Linked DNA regions of Homo sapiens: all the other regions are reported to be linked to region 3. The links are microRNA targets in miRTarBase. Many come from high-throughput screens and were not tested one by one. Region 3 holds a microRNA gene; each other region holds the end of a gene's coding sequence. Distances are from middle to middle.

What was found. Region 3 holds the annotated microRNA hsa-miR-6754-5p (CCAGGGAGGCUGGUUUGGAGGA, at 2,432-2,453, shown strand). A microRNA usually pairs through its seed, bases 2 to 8, with sites in the 3' UTR of a target mRNA and lowers its output. Matches are read on the target gene's strand: a 7mer-m8 pairs with bases 2 to 8, a 7mer-A1 pairs with bases 2 to 7 and ends in A, and an 8mer does both.
Region 1: miRTarBase lists GIPC1 as a target of hsa-miR-6754-5p. Seed matches in the 3' UTR shown: 7mer-m8 at 2,627-2,633, 7mer-m8 at 2,465-2,471 and 7mer-m8 at 2,333-2,339.
Region 2: miRTarBase lists CCDC85C as a target of hsa-miR-6754-5p. The part of its 3' UTR that is shown has no 7-base or 8-base seed match.
Region 4: miRTarBase lists HGS as a target of hsa-miR-6754-5p. Seed matches in the 3' UTR shown: 7mer-m8 at 2,628-2,634 and 7mer-A1 at 2,534-2,540.
Region 5: miRTarBase lists SFT2D2 as a target of hsa-miR-6754-5p. Seed matches in the 3' UTR shown: 7mer-m8 at 2,538-2,544, 7mer-m8 at 1,931-1,937 and 7mer-m8 at 1,921-1,927.
Region 6: the mRNA of FNBP4 is a reported target of hsa-miR-6754-5p. Seed matches in the 3' UTR shown: 8mer at 1,423-1,430.

The regions. Positions count from the first base shown.
Region 1 is chr19:14,475,610-14,479,565 of GRCh38, forward strand. GIPC1 (GIPC PDZ domain containing family member 1) reads right to left here. Exons shown (of 9, transcript NM_005716.4): 7 at 3,803-3,915; 8 at 3,075-3,156; 9 at 2,153-2,958. The coding sequence ends at 2,807. Among named protein-coding and RNA genes, the nearest start is that of PTGER1, 2.2 kb to the left of the region's middle. RefSeq lists enhancers at 1-398, 2,738-3,253 and a silencer at 815-1,297.
Region 2 is chr14:99,512,206-99,516,161 of GRCh38, reverse strand. It overlaps CCDC85C (coiled-coil domain containing 85C), which reads left to right. Exons shown (of 6, transcript NM_001144995.2): 6 at 827-3,956. The coding sequence ends at 916. CCNK (cyclin K) reads right to left here. Exons shown (of 11, transcript NM_001099402.2): 11 at 3,722-3,956. Among named protein-coding and RNA genes, the nearest start is that of CCNK, 33 kb to the right of the region's middle. RefSeq lists enhancers at 2,856-3,856, 3,857-3,956.
Region 3 is chr11:71,471,077-71,475,032 of GRCh38, forward strand. MIR6754 (microRNA 6754) reads left to right here and starts at 2,427; the gene lies at 2,427-2,492. NADSYN1 (NAD synthetase 1) reads left to right here. Exons shown (of 21, transcript NM_018161.5): 6 at 1,373-1,424; 7 at 2,202-2,290; 8 at 2,493-2,610; 9 at 3,319-3,450. RefSeq lists enhancers at 1,251-2,158, 2,159-3,065.
Region 4 is chr17:81,701,332-81,704,331 of GRCh38, reverse strand. HGS (hepatocyte growth factor-regulated tyrosine kinase substrate) reads right to left here. Exons shown (of 22, transcript NM_004712.5): 22 at 2,211-2,824. The coding sequence ends at 2,714. It overlaps MRPL12 (mitochondrial ribosomal protein L12), which reads right to left and starts at 965. Exons shown (of 5, transcript NM_002949.4): 1 at 757-965; 2 at 1-88. The coding sequence starts at 830. RefSeq lists a silencer at 598-977 and enhancers at 878-1,481, 1,468-1,537, 1,482-2,085, 2,690-3,000.
Region 5 is chr1:168,241,815-168,245,770 of GRCh38, reverse strand. It overlaps SFT2D2 (SFT2 domain containing 2), which reads right to left. Exons shown (of 8, transcript NM_199344.3): 8 at 1-3,270. The coding sequence ends at 3,231. It also overlaps the pseudogene ANKRD36BP1. Among named protein-coding and RNA genes, the nearest start is that of SFT2D2, 18 kb to the right of the region's middle.
Region 6 is chr11:47,714,646-47,718,527 of GRCh38, reverse strand. FNBP4 (formin binding protein 4) reads left to right here. Exons shown (of 17, transcript NM_015308.5): 17 at 1,016-2,034. The coding sequence ends at 1,106. AGBL2 (AGBL carboxypeptidase 2) reads left to right here and starts at 3,159. Exons shown (of 19, transcript NM_024783.4): 1 at 3,159-3,353; 2 at 3,778-3,882. The coding sequence starts at 3,878. RefSeq lists an enhancer at 3,422-3,481.

The DNA of each region.
Region 1 (3,956 bases), not on the chromosome of region 3:
CTCTTGCCTCATTAATAAAGCGGATAAAATCTAAACACTGGAAAATGTGAGCGTCGTCTGGGGCGGGCTGGGGCAGCTGCAGGGGGTGCCACTGCCCCCCTCCCTGGGGCTTTGGAGCTAGAGAGGCTAACTCCAATTCTGTGGGGCCAGCAATGCCCCCCCTGCCCTGCCAAAGCCTTCGTGGATGTCGGGGTGGGTGCTGGTGGGCAGGGCCTCGGGTAGACCAGCTTGGGTCAGGCCCAGCCTGGCCAGGGGATCCGCCTATTTATACAGGGGCTTAAGCCCCGGCTAGGGCCACAGCGAGTCATATCCTGGGAGGAGGCTGAAAGGGGGCAGGGGAACCAGGAGGCCTGGCGACCTGGGGACTCTCCCCAGTGACTGGCTCCTTTAAGATGGGCTGAGTGACACCTGTGACACACGTCCTAAGACACAAAGACTCGCCTCCTGCCCTGAGAAGTAGGGTCACACTGGCACAGCCTCACACCCTAAGACATACAATCCTGTCACTTACCACTCAGTTTCATCCTGTCCCCATCTCAGCACAGCCAGGTTGCTGCCGCCACATCCCTGAACTCAGGGTCTTACCCCCAGCGCCGGGACGCACCCAGAGTTACTGCCTCAATTCCAGCCCCTCCCAACACCCCAAAATGCAGCCCTCTGAGATGATCACCCGAACCACCCTCCTTAGTGCTGGGAAATAGGGTCTCACTTGGCACCCCGAGAGATACACACACGCACACACACTCCTTATTGCCAAAACTGCCCCTGACCACACTCTGTTTGACTTTCAATGACCCCTCAACAATCCCAGACAGGCCCCACCAGCACACTCCGTACACCCAAGGCACAAGAAGTGACACCCCCCGCCGCTGGACACCAGAGACCTAGCTGGCCACCCCCACCCTCACCCAGAAACAGCAACGCCCTGAGACACACACACCTGCACCCCTAGAGACCCCTAGACCTAGCCAGCACCCCCACCCAGGAAACAGCAACACCCCGAGACATACCCTGACACCCCTGAACACCCCAAGGCCTAGCCAAGCACCCCTCCTTGCCCCAGAAACAGCACCCTAAGACACACACCCCCACACCCCGGGACACCCCAAGACACAGTCACTCCGTTGCACTCCCCACCACCAGACACTGCCAGTTACACCTGCAATTGCCCTGGAACACAGAGCCGGTTATCACATCCCTTACCCACGACACAGCCCTCCCTCATTGCGTCACGAGCCATCAACACTCTTGATAGACTCACAGTGCTACCCAACACCCGAGACACACATAGCCACACCCCTTCACCACCGCAAGCGGCTCCCAGCACAGACACCTGAGGAGCCCACAGGTGCCCGGGGATGCCCTGAGTCACCAGGACTGCGGCTCCCCGACTCCACCCGGGTCTGTCCACCAACACCCAGCCCCCAGGGTCTTCCCCTTTTCCCCCTTCCCCTCTTCCTGGTGGCCCAGTGCCCGCCCGCCTTTTGGAACGAGGATTGCAAGCTGGCCTCGGACTTCCCCACAGCCTCTCGGCTCACCCCCAAGCATTCCTGTGGGGCCTTCTGGCCCAGCGCCCCTTGCTTCAATCCCTTCCCTTCCCTCCAGGTCTGGCCAGGGTCCCACCCCGCCTTTCCCTGATCACCCTCAATCCTCGAAGATGAGTGGGTTGTCAAAACAAGTATGCTGGGTTTATGTCTAGGACAAAGCAGGGTGCCCCATGGACGCCTGCGTGTCCAGCATTGGGCCGGGTGGGGTGGGGGCTGCCTCACGCCTGCCCCCAACCTCCCGGTGTAGGGGTGGGGCTCTGGCAGGCCTGAGGTTCCATCTTTCTATTTCCAAGCCAGGTTTCAATGCCCTGGTGCTCCCCACGGTCCGGGGGTTGTCACCAGCTGCAGACAGCAGCCTTGTGAAGCTCCAGGGGGTAGGAGGCCTTGTGGGAGAGGGGGCAGGATTTGAACCCTCAGTAGTCCAGGAAGCTCTGGCCCTGCCTGGAAGCCTGGTGGCCTGCAGCCAGAAGGAACAGTGGGAGGGGGCAGGTGGCTTGGTGCCAGCTCCTAATTCAATTTGGAGCCTGCGGAAGATGGATTTCAGCTGCTGAATTCTTTCTCAGCCCCAATCTTCCCCCTCTCCCACCCCGAAGCCACACAGGTCCAACAGCAGATAGATTCTTTATGTTCAAGACAGCAAATTCAGATACAAAAACCCACCGCCATCGTCCCTCCCTCCCTCCTGCTCTGGGCCAGGGATGGGCCTGGAAGGAGAGATGGGAGGTGGGGAGGAGGTTGCGGGGTTCACAGCAGACTCGTGTCAAATGCGGAGGTAACAGGCTCCACAGGGAGGGGGCTCCTCTCAGGAGGGGTGAGGGCATTATTGCATTTGCTGGGGGGAAGGACAACCCTCTCCCCTGTATTCCCTGCGTCAGGAAACTAGGAAGGTCATGACCCCCAAACAGAACCCAAGGCCCCAGGGAGACAGAGGGACCAGTTTGGCAGCTGATGGTGGAAAGTGGTGGAGGCGGGGGTGGCCGCCCAATTTGGCTGATCCCTCCCCTCCCTGTGCCTGACCCAGCTGAGGTAGGTGGGGAACAGGGCACAGGGGGGCCGGGGACCCCGGCCAGACTGGGAACCAGGGAGGGGATGGTACCGATTGGAGCGGGGCAGGGGGCCTGGCCCCACCTCCCCTCACCATCGTCCTTGGGCTGCTGAGCTAGGCTCAGGCTGGAGGCTCGGGTCCTGACGTCAGTGTCCCTGCTGGGGGCCCCCACCAGGTTGCGCCCGGGTCATCATCGCAGGGTCCGGGGGCAGTCCTAGTAGCGGCCGACCTTGGCGTCCCCAATGGCGCCCCAGACGTCAAAGACGAACTCGTCAGGGAAGGCAAAGTCACCCAGCCGTTCGTCCAGGGCCTCGGCCAGCTCATCCGGGTTCCTTTTGTCCTTTCCCAGCTCCACCATGGTGGCCGCTATTGGGGGAGGGGTCAGAACGGAGGCACAAATGACACCAGGGACCAAGGGGCTCAGGGTGGATTCGGCCCCCAGCAGACCTAGATGCCCCCTCCCCCAGGCAGCCCTCACTCACCCAGCTCCGTGTCCCTGATACCCATGTAACTCTCCAGCAGGTCATCCACCTTCTCAATGGCCTTCTCTTCAAAGGCAGAGGGCTGGGGGCCAGGGAGGGGTGACAGCGACATCATAACAATGTGAATATACATAGTAATTGGACGGACTGCCATTGTCACCACTTTACATATATTCGTATTTAGACCTCAGGACAACCCTGAGAAGGTGGTATCGGTGTTCAGCTCATCCCCATTTTACTGATGGGCAAACTGCGGCCCATGTGCCCAAGGAAGGTCCCTGGGAGCTGGGAAGTGGCAGAAGTGGACTAGAATCCAGGCTGTCTGCCCAGAGTCCCCTCAGCTAACAGGTAATGCTGCCGGTTATGAAAAGGAAGGGAGGGCTGGGCGCGGTGGCTCATGCCTATAATCCCAGCACTTTGGGAGGCCAAGGAGGCTGGATCACCTGATGTCAGGAGTTCGAGACCAACTCCTGGCCTGGCCAACATGGTGAAACCCCATCTCTACTAAAAATACAAAAATCAGCTGGGCATGGTGGTGGGCACCTGTAATCCCAGCTACTTGGGAGGCTGAGGCAGGAGTATCGCTTGAACCTGGGAGGCAGAGGTTGCAGTGAGCCGAGATTGCACCACTGCACTCCAGCCTGGGTGACAAGAGTGAGACTCTGTCTCAAAAAAAAAAAAAAGAAAGGGAAGGGATGCCGGAGATAGGGTCCGGCTGGAGCACTCACCAGATCCTCCACCGTGGCGGGGCCCCGGGATCGGAGCCGCAGGGTCCCTCGGCCAGTGCCCAGTTGTGGGCCAGAGCCAGGGCGGCCACCCGCTGAACGCTGGCTGATCATGTCTGTGGGAGGCAGGAGAGGAGTGAGTGTGGGGGAAGCTTGG
Region 2 (3,956 bases), not on the chromosome of region 3:
AGGCTTGGCACTGGGAGTGCGACCAGGGCCACCCAGCATGGCCATACCCTTCCCCATGTGGGACTCCATTTCTCGAATGCTCAGCGAAGGCTGGGTGACCTTGGATAGCTGGGGGGAGGCCTCAGAGGTGCTAGGAGCCCTGGCCCGTTGTCATCTCGCTGCCCCCTGCCCTTCCCAGAGGGCCCCTGGTGTCTGCAGATCCGCCCTCCCCAGGAGTGCCGTGCCTGGGGTTCTGGATAGAGCTTGAGCCCCCCACCCCCCCGGGACTGGTTTGTTCACCCCAGGTGTTCCCTGGGTGCTGGCCCCCGGGCCTCTCAGCTTGCTGGTGCCCCCTGTGGCTGCTGGCTGGGCAGATGGTGCTCAGAGCAGGAGGTCCAGGTGGAACCCTCCAGCCCACCAGGCTGGGGCTGCCCAGGAGAGCTCCGTGCTCGACCCAGCTGAGCACCATCGGCGGTCTCCTTGGGGGTGCTTGCAGGAGCCATCGGGGAAGGAGTTTCATAGGGTCTGAACCCAGGACTTAAAGGGGGGGCGAGAGGCTCTGAACTGTGCAGCCCCTCCCCCGCATCACCTAGTGGGGCCTGTGGACCCCACTGGACAGCTGCAAGGCTGAGCCACACCCCAGCAGTGACCTGCTCAGGCCCGATAGTTAGCGCGGCATGCAAAGACCTGGTGTGGGTGTCTCTGGGCCTGCAGTGGCCTCCGTGTCCCTCCTGGCCCCATGGCTCTGAGGACGTGGGTGATTCTGCCGTGATGAGGCGGCGGATGTGCATAGGCGGCAGGTGGACGCGGGTGAGTCCCACCACTCACATCTCTCTCCTCTCCACAGGTGGTCTGGAGAAAGCTGGGAGATGCAGCCAGCTCCAAGCCCTCCATACGGCAGCACCTGTCTGGGAACCAGTTCAAGGGGCCTTTGTAGGGCCACTCTTCTGTGGACGTGGACTGGCCCTGCTGGGGGTCCCCAGGGGGAGTTTCAGGCCCCAGACACGGGCAGGACCTCCAGCCCAGCCCCTGTCTTCTTCCTCTGTGGTGAACTGTACATAGGACGCTGCCCGCCCTGGCCCAGCTGCCATGGGTCCGATGCACTGGCCCAAGCCGCCATCTCCCGCCTCATACACCAGCAACCTGGGAAGACGAGACGCTGCGACTGTTCCTGCAGCAGAGCGGCCCGGACGCCTCATTCCCCCTCTGGGCCCTGGGCTCCATGAGCAAGAGGCTGCAGGCTGCTTCTGAGATCCAGCCTGGGAACTGTCCAGGCTCCTCTGTCCTGCCTGGGATGGAGGGGCCACTCATCAAACCCTCTACTCCCCGGCTGCCACCCACACTGGACAGAGACCACCACTACCTGGGTCTTGACGCAGGTGGCACCACTTCTTGCCCAAATGCCGTGGCCTGGCCCCAGGCCCCCCAAGCACTGGGTCCCCGGCATGTGGACAAGGCCACTCACCACATCTGTGGCTGGCTGGAGGCTGCCCTGGGCCCTTCCTGTGACCCTCAGCCTTGGAGGTCAGGGTGCCCTCACACCTGGGGATCTGTGCTCAGCCACCCGATGCCCGCTGCTCCTTGCTTTTGGAGGTCATCCCCCTCCCCCCCAGTCTCTGCAATGTCCCCCTGCCACCCTGTCCAGGCTATGCCCTTCTTGGGCTCCTCCTGCCCCATGCCTGAGGCACGTCCCTTTTCGTGGTTTACATGACAGGCCAGTAACAGGAAGGGCCTGGGGAGAGTTTCTGGGCTGAGCCACATGTGATTTTCCTGATGGGCAGCACTGGGCCACAGCTGGGGCTCTGGTTGGCTGTGACCTCCCCCAGGGCCTGGCTGCATCTTGGGTCCCTGTGGACAGAGCTGTGTAGGCTGCAGATGAGAGTTCTGTTCTTTTTGGGAAGGAGCGTGTCTGGCCAGGTTCTGCCTTTAGTTTGTGGTGTGACCTTTAGCAGTTCACTCAGCCTGTCTGGGCTCTTGGTGGAAACAGGTCTCTGAGGTTCCTTTTCGGCCATGCTTATGGCTCCAGGTCATCCAGCGCCACAGGGCAGGGGTCCTCACTGAGGGGGCGTGAGCCAACAGCCGACGGCTGAGGGCGGGCCGGGTGGAGCTGAGTTCTGCTGCCTTGCAGTCGCTGCGGGTGGAGAGTTGCCTCCCCACTCTGAGCCCGTGTCCTCAGTAGTAAAATGGGCAGCATAAGGCCCTCCTCACAGGATTCTGGCATCAAGTGAGATCTTCAGTGTAAATGACCATGTATAAACTGTAAAGTGCAATAGAAAACTGTGTGTGTGAGGAAAGTAAGGCCTAGAGGGGGTGATGTGTGGCACATGACAGGGATTTTGATCCCACAGCTGCAGCACGGGGACAGGCCGCTTCCCCACATCCGCTCATGCCACTGTAAGCAGCCCTAGCTCTTGGGTCCAGGACCTCACCAGGTCCTCGTCAGACTCCTGTGCTCTTCCAGGGGCTGCTCAGCCCCACCTGAAGAGCCCAGAGAGGCTGTCTTCCTACCCAGCAGGTCTCATGCAGGCCCAGGGCTGGGGATGCAGGCAAGAGGAGGGAGATGGCCGCCCTGTCCCTCTCCCTAGCTGGCGGCTCTATTCTGAGCAGTTCTTGCTGCCCGTTTGCTCTCAGGGGAAAGGCTCACGCCCCCCATCTTAGCCCCAGGGGGGTAAGTGGGTGCTGGTGATGGGATGGTGTGGCGCTCCTGCCGTGGGTGTTGCCAGGAGGCTCTTTGGGAAGGAGTGTCGCCCGGTCAGGTGGTGCGCTCCCGGTCACTAGGGGTGTACACGTGAAGTTGGGTGAACACCTGCTGCTCATGGTACCCAGTGATTCTTGCCCGAGTGGGCAGCTGAGCAGAGGCCCCTCTGGGTCTTGCAGTCCAAAGAACCGCAGAGTAGCCCAAGGGCTGTGGGTCCATTTTGAGTGGCAGCCAAGTCTGGGAGCCCGTGTGCATCATGTTTGGGTCAGGTTGGCGTGGCCACCACTGAAATAAGCAATAAGTACGGGCTCCTGGTACCTGCGGATCTCCTGCAAACAGGCCCAGAGAACAGCCTTGAAGCCACCTTTCCCCTCAAGGGGACTGACCCTGTCTTTAATGCTGCAGTGGCATCCAGGGATCAGTGGAACATTGCTTTGAGAACCCTCCTGCTGTTACGGAGGCAGCACAAAGCTGGTGACCCCTGAGCCAACACGGCACTGGGATGGCTTTCTAGGACAGAACCCTGTCGGCGACTGTCACATCTCAAACTAATAGCTGATTTTAAAAGCCAGCAGCAGCGACGCCATGTACCTGAGTACAGGTGGCAGTTGCAGAGCCGTGGGCTGTAGAAGGTCAGATGGGGCTTCCCACAGGGGAAATCTGGGCATGCTGTAGCTCAGGGTGACTCCCAGCTCCGTCACTAGCAGGGCGACCCCCTTCCTTCTGGAGCCTTAGCTCTGAAAGCCCCCAGTGGGGGTGCCCTTTCAGATGCCCCCTTTCCATTTCAAAGGCTCTGACTCTTGATCTTGAAGCCGGACGCGGCACTGGCACTCGGCTTCAGTTTCCACTGTGACAGATGGAGGTCTCCTTTCGCCCCAGCCCAGGTGGCCAAGCCCATCCTGGCCTCAGAACATGCTGAGCACATTTTGTAGGGTGGCACCTTTTTATCCAAGTTACTAGCTACACATCAGTGTTTAAAGAGAAAAAAGTGACCTTTCATTTTTTTTTTCTTGAAACTTGAGGAAACAAGATACATACTACTGATTTTTTTTTTTTCTTAAAACTAAATGCATGACTGCAGAGCGGTAGAGGTGTATATTTTTCATACTGTGGGGCAAAGTATTTGTGCTGCTTTTTGGAGATGGACTGGAACGTCTGGTTTCTGTCCCCGGGCCCGGCAGCTACGTCTATTTTCTGTAGAAGGTGCCACAGTGAGACCTGGAGCCACCCCTTCCTGCCCTGGCGCCGTTTAGAGCTGGGAGCCCGTGGACTCCCGGCC
Region 3 (3,956 bases):
GATGTTGTCTTTAGGATTTCAGAGCATAAGTGTGGGGCTCCTGTTCCTTCTTCCCCGTTCGTCTCATGAACGCCTCGGTGTCAGGTGTCACACTGGGCCCTCTGGGATGGTATTCCTTTCATCCCCGTGGAAGAGGTGGCAGGAAGGTGAGGCTGGAGCCCACCAGAAGCAACTGTACATTTTGGTTCACTTAGAGAAAGCTGAGGTTTCTAATCCTCTGGGAGCTGTGCCGAATGATGACAAGAAATGGTCATGTTCAGCATGCCCCTGCTTTAGTAAAGAGTACTTGGCAGGCTCAAGGAGCCATTCCAGGTTCCAGGTCCTCTTAGGAAAACATAACTAAGGCCTGGTCCTTGCCTGCAGAGAGCCATCCTCAAGGTGTGCGCTGGCTGTGGAGCACAGCTGCAGTGAGGAGCAAGGCCGGGTACATGCCTGTCCCGCTGGGTCTTTGTTCCGGTGTCCAGGGTGTCTTTGCATGAGTCGAGGGAAAGGTGCAGATGAAGGGAGAGATGTTTGGACGGTTCCTGCATTTAAAATGCATTTCGGTGCAGCAGCATCGCCGTCAACAGGCTACAGAGGGTGAATGGAGTGCTCAATATGGGATGGCGAGGCAGCCTGCAGTTCTGTAGGATATCTTCCTGTCCCCGTTCCCTACGTGAATGAGGGGGAAAGACATCATTGACTCAGTTTCTCAACCTTTAACATTTCTTAAGTAGAGAGAACTACTAAAACCATGCCCAGAAGGCTCCTGGGAATTCTAAGAAAGCAAAAAGGAAACGGAGTTCCTTGCAGATCTGAGTGGTGCATCTCGTAACAGCCTATTGGAAGTCAAATGCGTGAACTGTCTGTTTTGAAGATTCCGCCTCTTGGTGGAGCTTCTTGGGACACCTTGCACTAAAGTTGGTATTAAACCCTCCTCCTGATTTCTCGAATTGAGAGCATCATTTTATTCCAGGGATGATACTGGTTTGTCATTGTGTTTCGGGTTAATGCCACACGATTTTTCTGATTCAGTAACAGCGATCAGGAATTCCACCTGGATTTCTCCATGAGGCAACGTGGCCAGTTCTCAGCAAATCCCCTGTGACACATCTCTCAGTAAAGATGAACATGAGCGTGTGGGGAAACTGAGGCAGCCCGAAGCTCGGAGAGCCCAGCCCACCACCATGTCACATAGTCTCCTCAAGCCACCTTCATACTCTTTTCTTTTTACCTGAATGCGATTGTTTATTGCATTGGGGGGAACGCTTGGCAGTTCCTTTGCCAGTTCATCAGTTCGGAGGGTTCAGTTTGAGTTTTGTTTAAATGTAGCCGCCATTCCTCATTTGTCCTGAGATGCTCATCCTCAGCTCCTCGGTGTTTTCCTCTCCAGGCACACAGAGGAGTACTTTCTGCCTCGGATGATACAGGACCTGACAAAGCAGGTGAGTCCCTGGGTGTGGAGCCCGTTTTTCAGTCGGTTGTCGCTGTTCTCGGCCAACAGTGGACCAGGTGGGGCGGGAACGCTTTGGGATCCAGGTAATGGAAGGCACCACAGTGCTCACAGGTCTGAAACAGACAAAGGAGGCAGGTTCCTATAGTGAGGGGGGCTGCGTGGCCAGACAGCAGCCAGGGTGGCTCCTCCTTGCCTTGGGGCTGCTTTTCCTCCCTTCCCCCACTCACACTGGCTTCCTCCTCTTCATTTCCTCCTTGTGGCAGAAGACAGCCTTCTCCATCCCCAGGGGCTATGTTCTGACATTTAAGTGTTATCTAGACCAACAGCAAAATGCCCTACTCTCAATTTTGAATTCTAAGGGAAGGCACCCTGGTGTCCCCTCTCAGCCACTGCCTTGTGGCTGGGAGTGGGGGCCTAGCTTCATCAGCACAGGGCAGCAGCTGCTTCAGTGTGATCACAGGACAGGGTCGCTTCAGAAGCTGCTGGCCCCAATTGGCAGCCCCATCGATGTCCGTGACATTCTGCCCCTTGGCTGCTCAGAGTACAGGCGTCCCCTTCTTCCACACATAGGCTCCTAAGGGCGTCTCTGCCTGGCACCACCCGGTGTCCCATGCGCAGCCGCAGGGCACCCACCTCTTCGGAATGTGCGAGAGCCCAGAGCCAACTCCAGCTCTTGTGGCTGCAGGATGTCCGTGGCCCTAGGTAGTGCGTGGCCCAGACAGGGCATGGCTAGTGAATCTCATGCACTCTTCTCTTCCGACTGCAGGAAACCGTACCCTTCGGAGATGCGGTGCTGGTGACATGGGACACCTGCATTGGAAGTGAGATCTGTGAGGAGCTCTGGACACCCCACAGGTCAGCCCCATGCCCCTGTGCTGTCTGATCGCCCACCTCATATGGGCCAGCTGGGAGGACCTGGGACTGCAGACGTCCTGGGGCCGTGGCCGTGGCCGTGGCCGTGGGCTGGGAGCTGCCGTGGGAGAGTGCAAGGGGCTGCCAGGGAGGCTGGTTTGGAGGAGTCTGGTGGCCTGTTCTCTTCACCTGCCTCTGCCTGCAGCCCGCACATCGACATGGGCCTGGATGGCGTGGAGATCATCACCAACGCCTCGGGCAGCCACCAAGTGCTGCGCAAAGCCAACACCAGGGTGGATCTCGTGACTATGGTCACCAGCAAGGTAGGGGCTGGGCCAGGGAGCGTGCGCCACAGGGCAGACACTGTATCTCAAGAACTCCTGCATCCTCAGTGCCCATCGCAGGGCTGGGCCCACACACAATGGATGTTCCAGGCTAGTAATTATGGCCTGGACTCAACAAGTGTGCCCTGCTGCCCTCCAGGGCTTCGCCGGCACAGCCCATCTCACCCACGCAGCCACCCTATGAAGCAACCCTGTCACCCTCTCTGCCATGACCAGGAACCGGAACGTGCTCCTTGTTCGTTGGCATCATGGTGAGGCGTAGGGAACACCCGTACGTTTGCTGCTCCTGCTGTTGGGCAGTGAGACGTGCGAGGGGCAGTGCTGGTTCATCCTTCACGGGGCAGATGTGGGTCTAGCTGAGCCGCGTTTGAGTCTTGGCTTCATCATGCAGAGCTTTCTTTGGCTTGTCTGAACCTCATCATGCCTGAGGGAGGTGATGGGGTCTGCCTTGTAGGGTTGTTGTGAAGGAAAAACAAATGTTTTGTGTAGAGCCTGGCACCTAGCAAGGCGGGGCTCGCCGCAGCTTCACAGGTCTGTGCTTCCCCACACATATGCGTTATCTCTGCGGTGGTGGGACCACTCAGGATGACCTAGCGGGACTCGGCGGAGGTTCCTGTACTTGGGCAGGTGGCAGGTGAGGGTGGTGGACACAGCTGACCACTCCGCTATGGGGTCCTCCTTTTTCAGAACGGTGGGATTTACTTGCTGGCCAACCAGAAGGGTTGTGACGGGGACCGCCTGTACTACGACGGCTGTGCCATGATTGCCATGAACGGAAGCGTCTTTGCTCAAGGATCCCAGTTTTCTCTGGATGACGTGGTAATGAGCGGGCCTGGACATGCCTGGGGGAGGGTTCTCTGTGCAGAGACCGAGCTCCTGGCTCTCCCCTGTAAGCCGGGTGCTTAGTGAGGGCCCCTGTGGAGAAGCCCCCGGGGGTCCCGCCTGCTCCTGGCTCTCCCCTGTAAGCCGGGCGCTTAGTGAGGGCCCCTGTGGAGAAGCCCCCGGGGGTCCCGCCTGCTCCTGGCTCTCCCCTGTAAGCCGGGTGCTTAGTGAGGGCCCCTGTGGAGAAGCCCCCAGGGGTCCCGCCTGCTCTGATGGCCTCAAATTTACCTGGTTGGTGAGGGGGGACCTCCCGCCCTCGGGTCTGGAGACAGCTGAACCCCGACACACAGCACATAGTAGTGGACGGATGAGGTTGAGGGCAGCTTACGAGTCCTGCGTTCCCACAGTGCGGGAGGAGGGCTCCGTGCCACGCAGGGCCAGGTGGGAGTGTGCTCAGGAACAGAGGGGACGGCCCCCGCTGTGGGAGGCGGGCTCTGTGGTGA
Region 4 (3,000 bases), not on the chromosome of region 3:
ATCCAGGGGTGCACCAGCGAGGGCCTCACACCTCTGATGGCCGCTGCTCCTCATATGTCGCACGGCACAGACACATGGCACCTGTCGCCTAGCCCCCACCCCCAATTAAAACAGACTTGTCAGTCCTGGAATGGAAGGGGCTGCAGAAACCAGAGGGGCAGGACAACTGGGGGACTGGTGGGTGCCATAAGCTCAGGCTGGTAATCACTAGGGCCGGAAATTACCTAGCTCCTTGGTCCCAGTCCAGGGTTCTCAGACCTCAAGGGGTCCGTATTGATAAGATTTGCAAGTTACTTTAAATTCTTCAAAGAGCCTTAGAAAGCCACGTGTTTATTTGCAGCCATACCACTCAAACCTCAAGTTTCTGGTTTGAATGAACTACATCAACCCAGCGGTGGCGAAACTATTACTTAGGTGCATCTTCCTGCGCAAAGCCTCCCAAAACATGGGGGCCCCTGGCCGCAAAACGCCGCACCCACGGATGGGCCTTTGCTGCGGAAAAGGCTGAGGCCAAGGGAGGAGCAGGGAATCGTCCAAGGTCATCTGGGGCCGACCCCGGCGCTTTCCACGGCCCAGGAGGGAAGGGGCGTGCGCACCGGGAGGCCTCCTCCCCGCGCCCCCGATGGGACCCCCAAGCCCGGCCTGGCCGCTGCAGGGAGGCCGGCCCCGCCGCCCTCCTCGCCCGGATCGACCCCTCAGTGCCCGGCTGCCCCCTAACCCGCCTGCCGGCCCGGACCGCCCCAGGATCCCGCGTACCTGGCAAGGCGGAACGCAGCGGCCCGAAGCCCAAGGCAAGGCCCCCACAGGGGGCGAGCGGCCGCCGGCAGCATCGGTCCGCGGGCTGGAAGGTCACACGCGGTTCCCCGGGAGGAGGCGACGCTCTAGCCGCCTCGGCCGCCGGGCATTCGAGCTGGGGAGGAACGCTCTAGCCGCCACGGCTGCCGGGCATTCGAGCCGGAAATGACGCTCTAGCCGTACCTCGCGCTAGCCTCGTCTCACCCTGAGATTACCCACAAGGCGGCGCGCTGCGCAGACGCAAAAGCGTCGTCTGTGGCGGCAGCTAGACATCGGGCGACCCTCGTCCCGCCAGGTTTTGGGGTCGCGCAAACGAGCGACGGGGGCTGGGGCTCCGGATTCAGGTGTTCTTTCTTCAGCGCTCACGGGTTTCTGTCCGTACGCGATGCGAGCGAACGTCGCGGTCGAGGCTAGGGCCCCGAAGCCCGCAGTAATCCACGTCTCCCGCCCGCTCCGGGCCCCCAGTGCCGCCGTCGCGGGCGGAGGCGCGAGGTCTGGGCTTTGGCGCCTTCGCAGCCGCAGGCGACATCCTCTTTCCTAGCTAAAGCCCCAAACGCCCAGGTGGCTTCCTGGGAGAGCACGGCTGAGCCTCCGCCTTCAGATCAGAACAGGCAGAGCCTCCAAGGGCGGCTTGGGCCCAGTGCCTGCTTATCCTGCCCGTCTCTCCACACTTCTTCTTTCCCTGTCCGTTGGAGTCCATTCCTTCCTGGAAAAGCCAAAGCCGCGCTCCCCTAAGAGGCCTGGATGTGAAGGTGAGTGAGACGCCCTGGCCTCTGGGTGCAAAGGCCGGCGCCTGCCGCTTTCAACACTCAGGAGGCGCGTTTCAGCCCCGCTGGCCCCCGGCCGCAGACTCGGAGCGCTGAGCTCCCACCGTTCCCATCACCCGACTCCCTTCCCAGGAATGAGGAGCACCCGGGAAGCTTCAGCCACTACACGAAGGAGGCGCCAAGCCCAAACTCCTCCCCAGCTACCGGCGGGGTCAGTGCAGAGCCGCGGAGGGCACACATGAACCCTGGCACGCAGCCTCAGGGAGGGGCAGGCTGGAAATGACCCTGCCTGCAGCTGGGCCATCAGCCTGACCACCTGCCCCCTGAGCAAACGTTGATGCAGGTCGGGCGCGGTGGCTCATGCCTGTAATCCCAGCACTTTAGGAGCCCGAGGCAGGTGGATCACCTGAGGTTAGGCGTTCACGACCAGCCTGGCCAACATGGTGAAACACCGTCGCTACTAAAAATACAAAAACTAGCCAGGCATGGTAATGGGGTGCACCTGTAGTCCAGCTACTCGGGAGGCTGAGGCCCGAGAATCGCTTGAACCCAGGAGGCGGAGCTTGCAGTGAGCGGAGATCACCACTCCAGCCTGGGTGACAGAGTGAGACTCCATCTCAAAAAAATTAATTAAAGAAAAAACGCTGATGCTTTCTGAAATACATTTTATTATCGCTGTACCATTCTGGGGCACTGGAGATGGCAGCTGAGAAGCAGAGAAGCTGGAGACCTGAAGCCTCCACCCTTGGCTGTGGCTGCCGAGAGAGGCCCCTGCAGAGGGAGCCCCAGGCCACACCCAGACACCACAGCCAGCTCACAGTGCGGCCAGAGGGCACAGGCTGCTTGGGGGGTGAGGGTCCCCATTCCTGCCACCTCTCACAGACCATGACCCACAGGGCTGGGGGCTTCCCCTGGGAGAAAGTCCTTCCCTCCCCATGGCCCAGCCCTGGGGAAAGAAAGCAGAGACTAACTCAGGGACTGCAGTAGGCTGAGGACAAGGGAGGTGGGCTTGGGGTGAAGGCCCCCCCTCACTCGCAGAGAAGGGACACTACCGGCAGTAGAGGACAGGGAGGCAGGACGACGGCAGTTAGAGACGAGGCGTTTCAGGTGAACTGTATGTAGTGTTACTCCGGACGTGAGCATGGCCTGGGTCAGTCGAATGAAATGAGCTGGGCCTCGCTGCCCTGTGCCGGCGGCCCCTGTGCCTGCGGTTGCTGGGCCACGGGGGGCTGCTGCTGGGGGGGACCGCCAGAGGGTGCCATCTGTGCAGGAGGAAAGCAGGCATGGCCCTGGTCCTCCCTTCCCCAGCCCAGGGAGGAAGGCTTTTGTCCCAGCAGAGCCACAGACCCACAAGTGCTTGTAATCCATGTCCACGGACTGCAGCTCATGCAGCCAGCTCATGCGGCCTTTGCCTTTCAAGTAAATTCACGGTTTTTCC
Region 5 (3,956 bases), not on the chromosome of region 3:
AACTACAGAAATAGATGAAGCTTCTTCTGAATTTAAATCTGGATCCTCTGTAGCAGAGGTTCCCAACCTACAGGCCATGGACAGGTCCATGACCTGTTAGGAACCAGCTGCACAGCAGGAGAGTTACTGTGGATCTTCTAGATCATCTGCATGCCATGTGAATCTTAAAACCAGTTTTTAATTTCTACAAAAAAAAAAAAAAAAAAGCCTGCTTGGCTTTGGATGGGGACTGCATTATATCTATAGATTAATATGGGAAAGAATTAACATCAACAATGTTGAGTCTCTCAACCTATCAACAAGATATTTACTTAGGTCTTAATTTTTCTTAGCAATGCTTTTTAGTTATCAGTGTACAGATAATCCACATAGTTTGTCGGGTTTATTCCCAAGAATTTTATATTTTAATGCTATTGTAAATGGTATTATTTTTAAATTTTCAATTCCTAATTCTTTACTTCTAACATGGAGAAACACAATTGATTTGTGTATATCAATTATATATCCTGCTGTGTTGCGAAACTCACTTGCTGGTTTCAGTAACTTAGTAATGGATTTGATTTGGTTTTCTACATAGATGATAATATCTGTGAATAGACAGTTTTACTCATTTCTTTTCAATCTAAAGGCCTTTCATTTTTCTCCTTCCCTCCCTCTTTCCCCCTACTCCCAATTAAAACATGATTGCAGTGGCTAGAATTTTCAGTACAACGTTGAATAGAAGTGGTAAGAGTTGACATCTCTGTCTTATTCTCAATCTTAGGGGAAAACATTCAGCCTTTCATCATTACATAGGATGTTAGCAGTAGATATTTTAAAGATGCCCTTCGACAGGTTGAGGAAATTCTCTTGTATCCCTAGTTTGCTGAGATTATTTTTTAAACAAAGCATGGTTGTTCAATCTAAAAAAAAAAAAAGGACATGGACATGGAGGGATGAGCCTTCTAGGTGTCTTATTCCAGGCTGCTGGAGCTGCTGGAGCTCACAGTGACTAGCCAAGCCTCGTATCAGTTCTAAAGAAAAGGAACCATGAGCCCTCCTGACCTCCTCCATGTCCCTTCTGACACCACAGCCCTTCTGAGATCTGTCTCCAAGAGGCACCTGGGATGTGAAAGAATCCCACAAAAGCCAGAGGGGTAGCATAAAATTTCCTTTCCTGGCTGAGGACAGGTTAGTGACCTGAGCAGATGACTGGATGTCATCAATAGCCTAGAAAGAACCTGGGAAGACTAGCTCCTCTCTCTGGCCCCGTCAGGCTTGTTCACACCTCCCCAGCCTCAGAAGAAAAGATCAGCAGGGCACAGTGGCTCACACCTGTAATCCCAGCACTTTGGGAGGTCAAGGTGGGCGGATTACCTGAGGTCAGGAGTTCCAGACCAGCTTGGCCAACATGGTGAAACCCTGTCTCCACTAAAAACACAAAAATTAGCACGGGCGTGGTGGCGGGCACCTGTAATCCCAGCTACTTGGAAGGCTGAGGCAGGAGAATTGCTTGAACCCGGGAGGTGGAGGTTGCAGTGAGCAGAGATCACGCCACTGCACTCCAGCCTGGGCGACGGAGTGAGACTCCATCTCAAAAAGAAAAAAAAAAAAAAACCAGTCAGAGTTCTTAGCCACAGTAGGACAAAGAAAGGTTCAGCAATTAGCCACAAGAAAGGGGACAACCAGCAGGCCACTTCCTTTGGTTTAGCAGTGACAGAGGAGGAGCCCTAGTGGACCAGTTGGCCCTGTGCAAAGAACAGAAAGGCAATCCAGATAAACGTCATTTGTAGGATGACTCTGGAGGTCCTGGAGGGCCAGGAATGCTGGCTGACAAGACAGGGCACTAATCGTAGTCAGGCAACAAGGAGGAGCTGAAAGGGAACACAAGGGACAGTGAACATCCTGCAGATCCAGGAAGAAGCTTCCAAAAGAGATGGGCAGGGAGGGCCAGGGAGGAGATGGCTTGGCTGATGAAAACGAGGGAAACAGTCACAGGCAGTTACAGGAGGCACAACCAGAAACAGGCCAGGAAACTCTGGGGTCATGAAGGAGGCTGAAGCTGTGGCTTTGGGTGGATCCAAAAACCAGTGTGGGCCTTGATTCCCTTGACTGCACAGTGGTATAACAATCCCTGCTTCCTCACAAGGCTCTCCATAAGAACCAGGTAAGATCGTGGACACAAAAGCACTTTGTAGGTTAGGCATCAGGCTGACATGAGACCACCTGCAGTTTATCCCCAGTGTCCCCAGCACAGGCTAAGTGCAAACACTGGGACTATTTAAAGGTCACTGGGCAGGCGTGCCTACTTCCTGCTGGCTGCACAGCAGGGATCTGTCTTCCCACCCCACTCTCCCCTGGCCCAACTCCAGGGGAGAATGGAAAATAAAATCAGTTTAAAAGCAAACATTTATAAATAATGGAGAAAAAAATATAGCTGAGAGCAGCAGGATTTTTCAACTCCTATGGGCTCTCGTCCAAAAAAAAAACAGCAGCATTTTCTGCTGCTGCTCTGTTCTTTCCCCATCTAGTGCCAGGAGGTCATAAAGAAAGATATGCAGGGAGAGGGAGGGAGGGATGGGAAATAAAACCCAAGAGAAAAAGAGTCTGCACCTAATGTCAGAAAATACATTCCACAGTCAGGCGCAGAATCAGAACACCAAGAATGCTTAGATTCAAATTCAGAAACAGCATATACCACCAAAAAGTGCTTCTTTTCTACCTCACTCCATGGCCAGGCTCTCCAGGGGCTTGTCTAAAGCAGAGTCACTTGTTCTCAGATGCCAGAGTAGAAGCAGACTCACTCTATGCAGGACCACGGTGATGGCTTCCATGCTGAGGGACAAGTGGACCCCAAAACTCTGTCCCTTACTGTTGCTCCCGTGATCTCTGATGGGGCTGCCTTTTGCCACCTGGGAATCACTTGCACCCAAGGCTTATGTGCTGTTGCTGAATAGGTTTGTATTCATGGGAATTCAGTGGGACAACATCCAGAGAGGAAACAGGTACATGAGGAAGATTCCACTCCACAAGATACAGAACCCACTTCTCATCCTGTGCTACTGACATTCAGGTTCGAGAATGTATTGTTGCTTCCAAAAGTAACCCTCAAATGTTCGAATCACAAGCAACACATTGCTGCAAGATAAAAGGCACATGTCTGTAAGACAGAGGTTTCGAAGATAGTTACAAAACTGTCCACCAGCTTCTGTCCATAGTGCCTTCCAAAGCTTCATAAAACTGGCCATGAATTATGCAAGACACACGGCAAAACACTTCTTCACAGCATCCCTAGGAAAGAAAAGACACAAAGATGAGTGGAACGTCATCACCCCAAAGGCACTCCTTTAGAGGGCACCCAGAGTGGAAGCTGCAGAGTAGAAAGCACCTAGACTGAAAGATCAGACCTTCACAGCATCAAACTGCAGCTTCAACATTTATTAGTAGTACTATCCTGGGAAAGTTCCTTGTCCTGTTTGAGTTTCAAATTCCTCATCTGTAAGAGGGGATGTCCCCACTTACCCGACAGTCTGATTATGGGATTAGCCATCATAATCAGAGAAAAAGATAACATAGACTGTCAGAAACTAAGAAATCAGTCAGGATTGCTGCACTTTAATATCGGTCAAAATCACAGAATGCACTGACAGCATTAAATCAAATATTAACTGGGACCTTTCTTCATTCTAAGCAGGCAGCAGAAGGGAGCTCACTATGGGTCCTGAGCACTTATTAATATGCTATAATGGCCTTATCACAGGTATTTACTGCTTGGAATTCAGTGTAGAGGGTGCAAGGAAGAGTTGGTCTTCAAGAAATTACTATTCTACCCAAGCAAGCACTTCCATTTCCACCACCACACCACACTGTGCAATGTGGCACTAGGCTTCTCATACCCCAGCTCTGTTCCACGTTCTCAACTGTGCTGCACTAAGGACATTGGGAGTCACATAAGGGAGGGAGAGGTGAATGGATGC
Region 6 (3,882 bases), 24 Mb from region 3:
CAAAAACATTAGATCCGGCCGGGCACAGGGGCTCACATCTGTAATCCCAGCACTTTGGGAAGCCGAGGTGGGTGGATCACGAGGTCAGGAGTTCGAGACCAGCCTGGCCAACATAGTGAAAACCTGTCTTTACTAAAAATATAAAAATTAGCTGGACATGGTGGCAGGCGCCTGTAGTCCAAGCCACTTGGGAGGCTGAGGCAGGAGAATCGCTTGGACCTAGGAGGCAGAGGTTGCAGTGAGCCGAGATTGTGCCACTGCACTCCAGTCTGGGCAACAGAGCAAGACTCCATCTCAAAAACAGAAAAAAAAACATTAGATCCCAGGGTCCCTGTTGGTAGACTGAGGATTAGATATATCTGCCCTGAAGAATCATAACTCCTGTGGGCTAAGAAAAACTCTAATAGAACGTGTTTCATTTCTTCAGTGTGCCTTTAATGGTTATTGGAGGTATATTTATATAAAATAAATAAGGCCGGGCACGGTGGCTCACACCTGTAATCCCAGCACTTTGGGAGGCCAAGGCAGTCAGATCACCTGAGGTTGGGAGTTCGAGACCAGCCTGACCAACATGGAGAAACCCTGTCGCTACTTAAAAAAAAAAAAAATTAGCCAGGCATGGTTGCACATGCCTGTAATCCCAGCTACTCTGAGGGGAGGCTGAGGCAGGAGAATCGCTTGAACCTGGGAGGCGGAGGTTGCGGTGAGCCGAGATCGCACCATTGCACTCCAGACTGGGCAACAAGAGCAAAATTCCGTCTCAATCAGTCAATAATAAATAAATAAATATGCACTTAGACATATACGTAAAACTGGGGTAGTGTTTGGTTGACCTATCAGAATGAAGAAGTTTGATGAAGAATATACTGATGTTTGGCTGAGAAACAAAAGATTTTCATAAACATAGACGTGATAGATCAGGTTTTTAATTTCAGTTAGATTTTTATTTGCTGGGAAATGAATACTTTTGTTAATTTTTCTTTCCACTAAAATAATCTGTATGTTGTTTTCACAGTGGCATGGCAGAGAGAAATGCTAATTTTGAAGCCCTTCCTGAGGATTGGAGAGCAAGGCTGAAGAGAAGGAAAATGGCTCCAAACACATAGTTTTTAAGTTTTTAAAACTTTTTTGTATTATTGTTTGTTTTGTGTTCAGTTCAAAGTCTTAACCAGTTTTATTGTCAAATAAACTATAAATGTTATGGGGGAGATCTTATAAATTTCCTGGGCAAGAGTGTATGCATACAAAGTTTTCACTTTTGTGAAATGTAATTTTTCTGTTTTTGCAAAGGGATGAGGTGATTGGAATTGCTTTGACCATGCTGCCTTTATTCTCAAACTGGCAAACTTAGCATGTTAGGTGTATTAACCTCATCAGTCTTGAAGAACATGTGGCTCATGAGTATAACACTTCTGTAGAGGACTCCCTGACAAAAGTGAAGAATTAACTTCTCCTCCAGAACAAGTGCAATTCAGAAGGCAGCTCTGCATTCTACCTTGCTTGACTGGAATTGTCTGAAGCTTTTTCTGGCCTCTTTTCTCTAGTCGGCCACCCCTGAAGTGCTGAGGTCTAAGTGGTTTACCTCGTGCTGATAGATGGCCACACTCTTTAGAGTAGTTCTCATAAGTTCTAGAACTGGTAGCTCGGTCGTTTCGCACACTAGGTGGCATACAGGCAGCAGCAGGTGTTCATATCCTTGATTTTGAGAATTTCCCCTCAAGTATGTGGCAGTAAATACAACAAGACACTCTATGTATTAATGTCTCCATTGTCTTAACCCTGTTCCAAAACAAAATTCACCTCCTTTCTTTATGTGAATGTATTCTCCATAAAATTCCAGTATTTAAAAAGCAGTTTACTGTTCTGTACTTTCTGTTGTATCACAATCAGGTAAAAGTCACTTTAAACTGAGGAAACGGCAAATTGTGTTTTAAAGCTCTTTGTATTTCTCCAGTTTCTGACCTTGTAAATTTGTATATATGCACTAATAAAGCTTTTTTTATAATCCTGATGGGTTATCCTTTTGCTCGTCAACTCCTGTTATTCTGATTATGTAACCAGGACTTGTTTTTTTTTCTAAGCATATACAATGCAAGGTGCAAACATTTAACAACAGCTTTCAAGAAAATGAGCAGGAGATCTTTAATGGGGAGTGGTGGGGCCAGTTTAGACAAACAGGCTTCTAGTCCCAGATGGTGCTGTGTGATCAAAGTTTTGGGGTCTAATATTATCTATAATATCTAGATTGGTTAATAGCCATATTAGATAATATTTTACCTACTTAATTCCTGGCAATGATGTAATATGGTTAACATTTCAGAAAAAAAGGTGCTTTATAGCTTTTTTCCCCCCACTGATAAAAGTAACAGATACGGTTATATTCATATATAGTTAACCAAAGACACGTGTTTGAATTTTATTGTAGTATATTTATTTTTTTGTTGTTGGTTTTTTGTTTTTTTTTTTTCTGGAGACAGAATTTCGCTCTTGTTGCTCAGGCTGGAGTGCAATGGCACGATCTCGGCTCACCGCAACCTCCGCCTCCCAGGTTCAAGTGATTCTCCTGCCTCAGCCTCCCGAGTAGCTGGGATTACAGGCATGCGCCACCACACCCAGCTAATTTTGTATTTTTAGTAGAGATGGGGTTTTTCCATGTTGGTCAGGCTAGTCTCCAACTCTCGACCTCCCAAAGTTCTGGGATTACAGGCGAGAGCCACCGCGCCTGGCCTGGAGTAAATTTCTATGCATATAATTGATTTTTTTAAACCTAATCAAAATGTGTGATTTGAATTTGTTAGCTCTGTTTCTTAAGATTTGCAGTGTAGAAGGTAATTTTTCCTTTCTAGCTGTGCAGTGGAGAGAATGTTAAGGTGAAAGGAGAGAAGCAGCAGCTCTCTTAGAGCAAATTATGCATAACAGTTATCTAAAGCCAACAGCAAACCAGCTTGGAAGTATGTTGAAGGCTACTGGCATCGTACTCATCAATGCGGTTTCGATTCCGAGGCTGGGGCTGTGATGTATGAGGGGAAGAAAGCCGCTGCCCGCCATACATGTTGCAGACCTTCCCGGGGTCCCCGCTCCCTCCTTGGGGGCGAGGCCTAGCTCCCCGGAAGCGCCCGACCGCCCCGCCCTTTCTCCGCTTCCTGCTTTCGGTTGCTAGACTACCCGGGCCCTCACAGAAGGCGGTGGCGGGCGGGTGCAGCGAGTTTGTCCCCTTGCCCGCACACTGCTTGGCCTCTGTACTTAAGTGCGGTGGCCGCCTGCCTCGCTGGAGCTTCTCTGCCGCAGCCATCCGTGCTGCTTGGGACGGGCCGGGGCGCGAAGGCGGTCGCATCCATCGCTCTGCCCTCCTGGGAAGTTTCTGCTCTCCTTCCCCGCTCCTACCCTTAGGAAACCCCCTCACCACCTGCCCCAGACCAGGTTCCTCTGAACCCTAAATTCAATCTTTAGGGCCCACTTTCCCAACCCCCTGACCTTTTTCCATCGGCACCTACCGAGACGACTTCGTCGCGTGCTCCCATACCCATTTCTTTCACTTTCCTGTGGCGAGCATCTCCTTTCTCAGGGAAAGGGAAGCATGGGGCCAGCACCTTGGGAAGAAGAAGCGGGAAGATACGCTGCCCTCCCTGTCTCAGATGCACCTCTGGCCTCGGCGTGACCACCTTGTTTAGCTGAGGAGAAGCTGGGTTGGCAGGGTTTTCTGAAGTCAAGAGGGAGCTGGGGGGCGCCCGGGGAGGTATTGGCAGTTTTTTCACTTGTCCTCTTGTGGCTTTGTAGCTTCTCTTGTGTAATCAGCTGCCTATTTGGAAATTGGGCAGGGTTTGCGACTGGATGCTAATGTCACTGACTAGTTTTCAGCCTACCATCCAGAAGTAACATGTT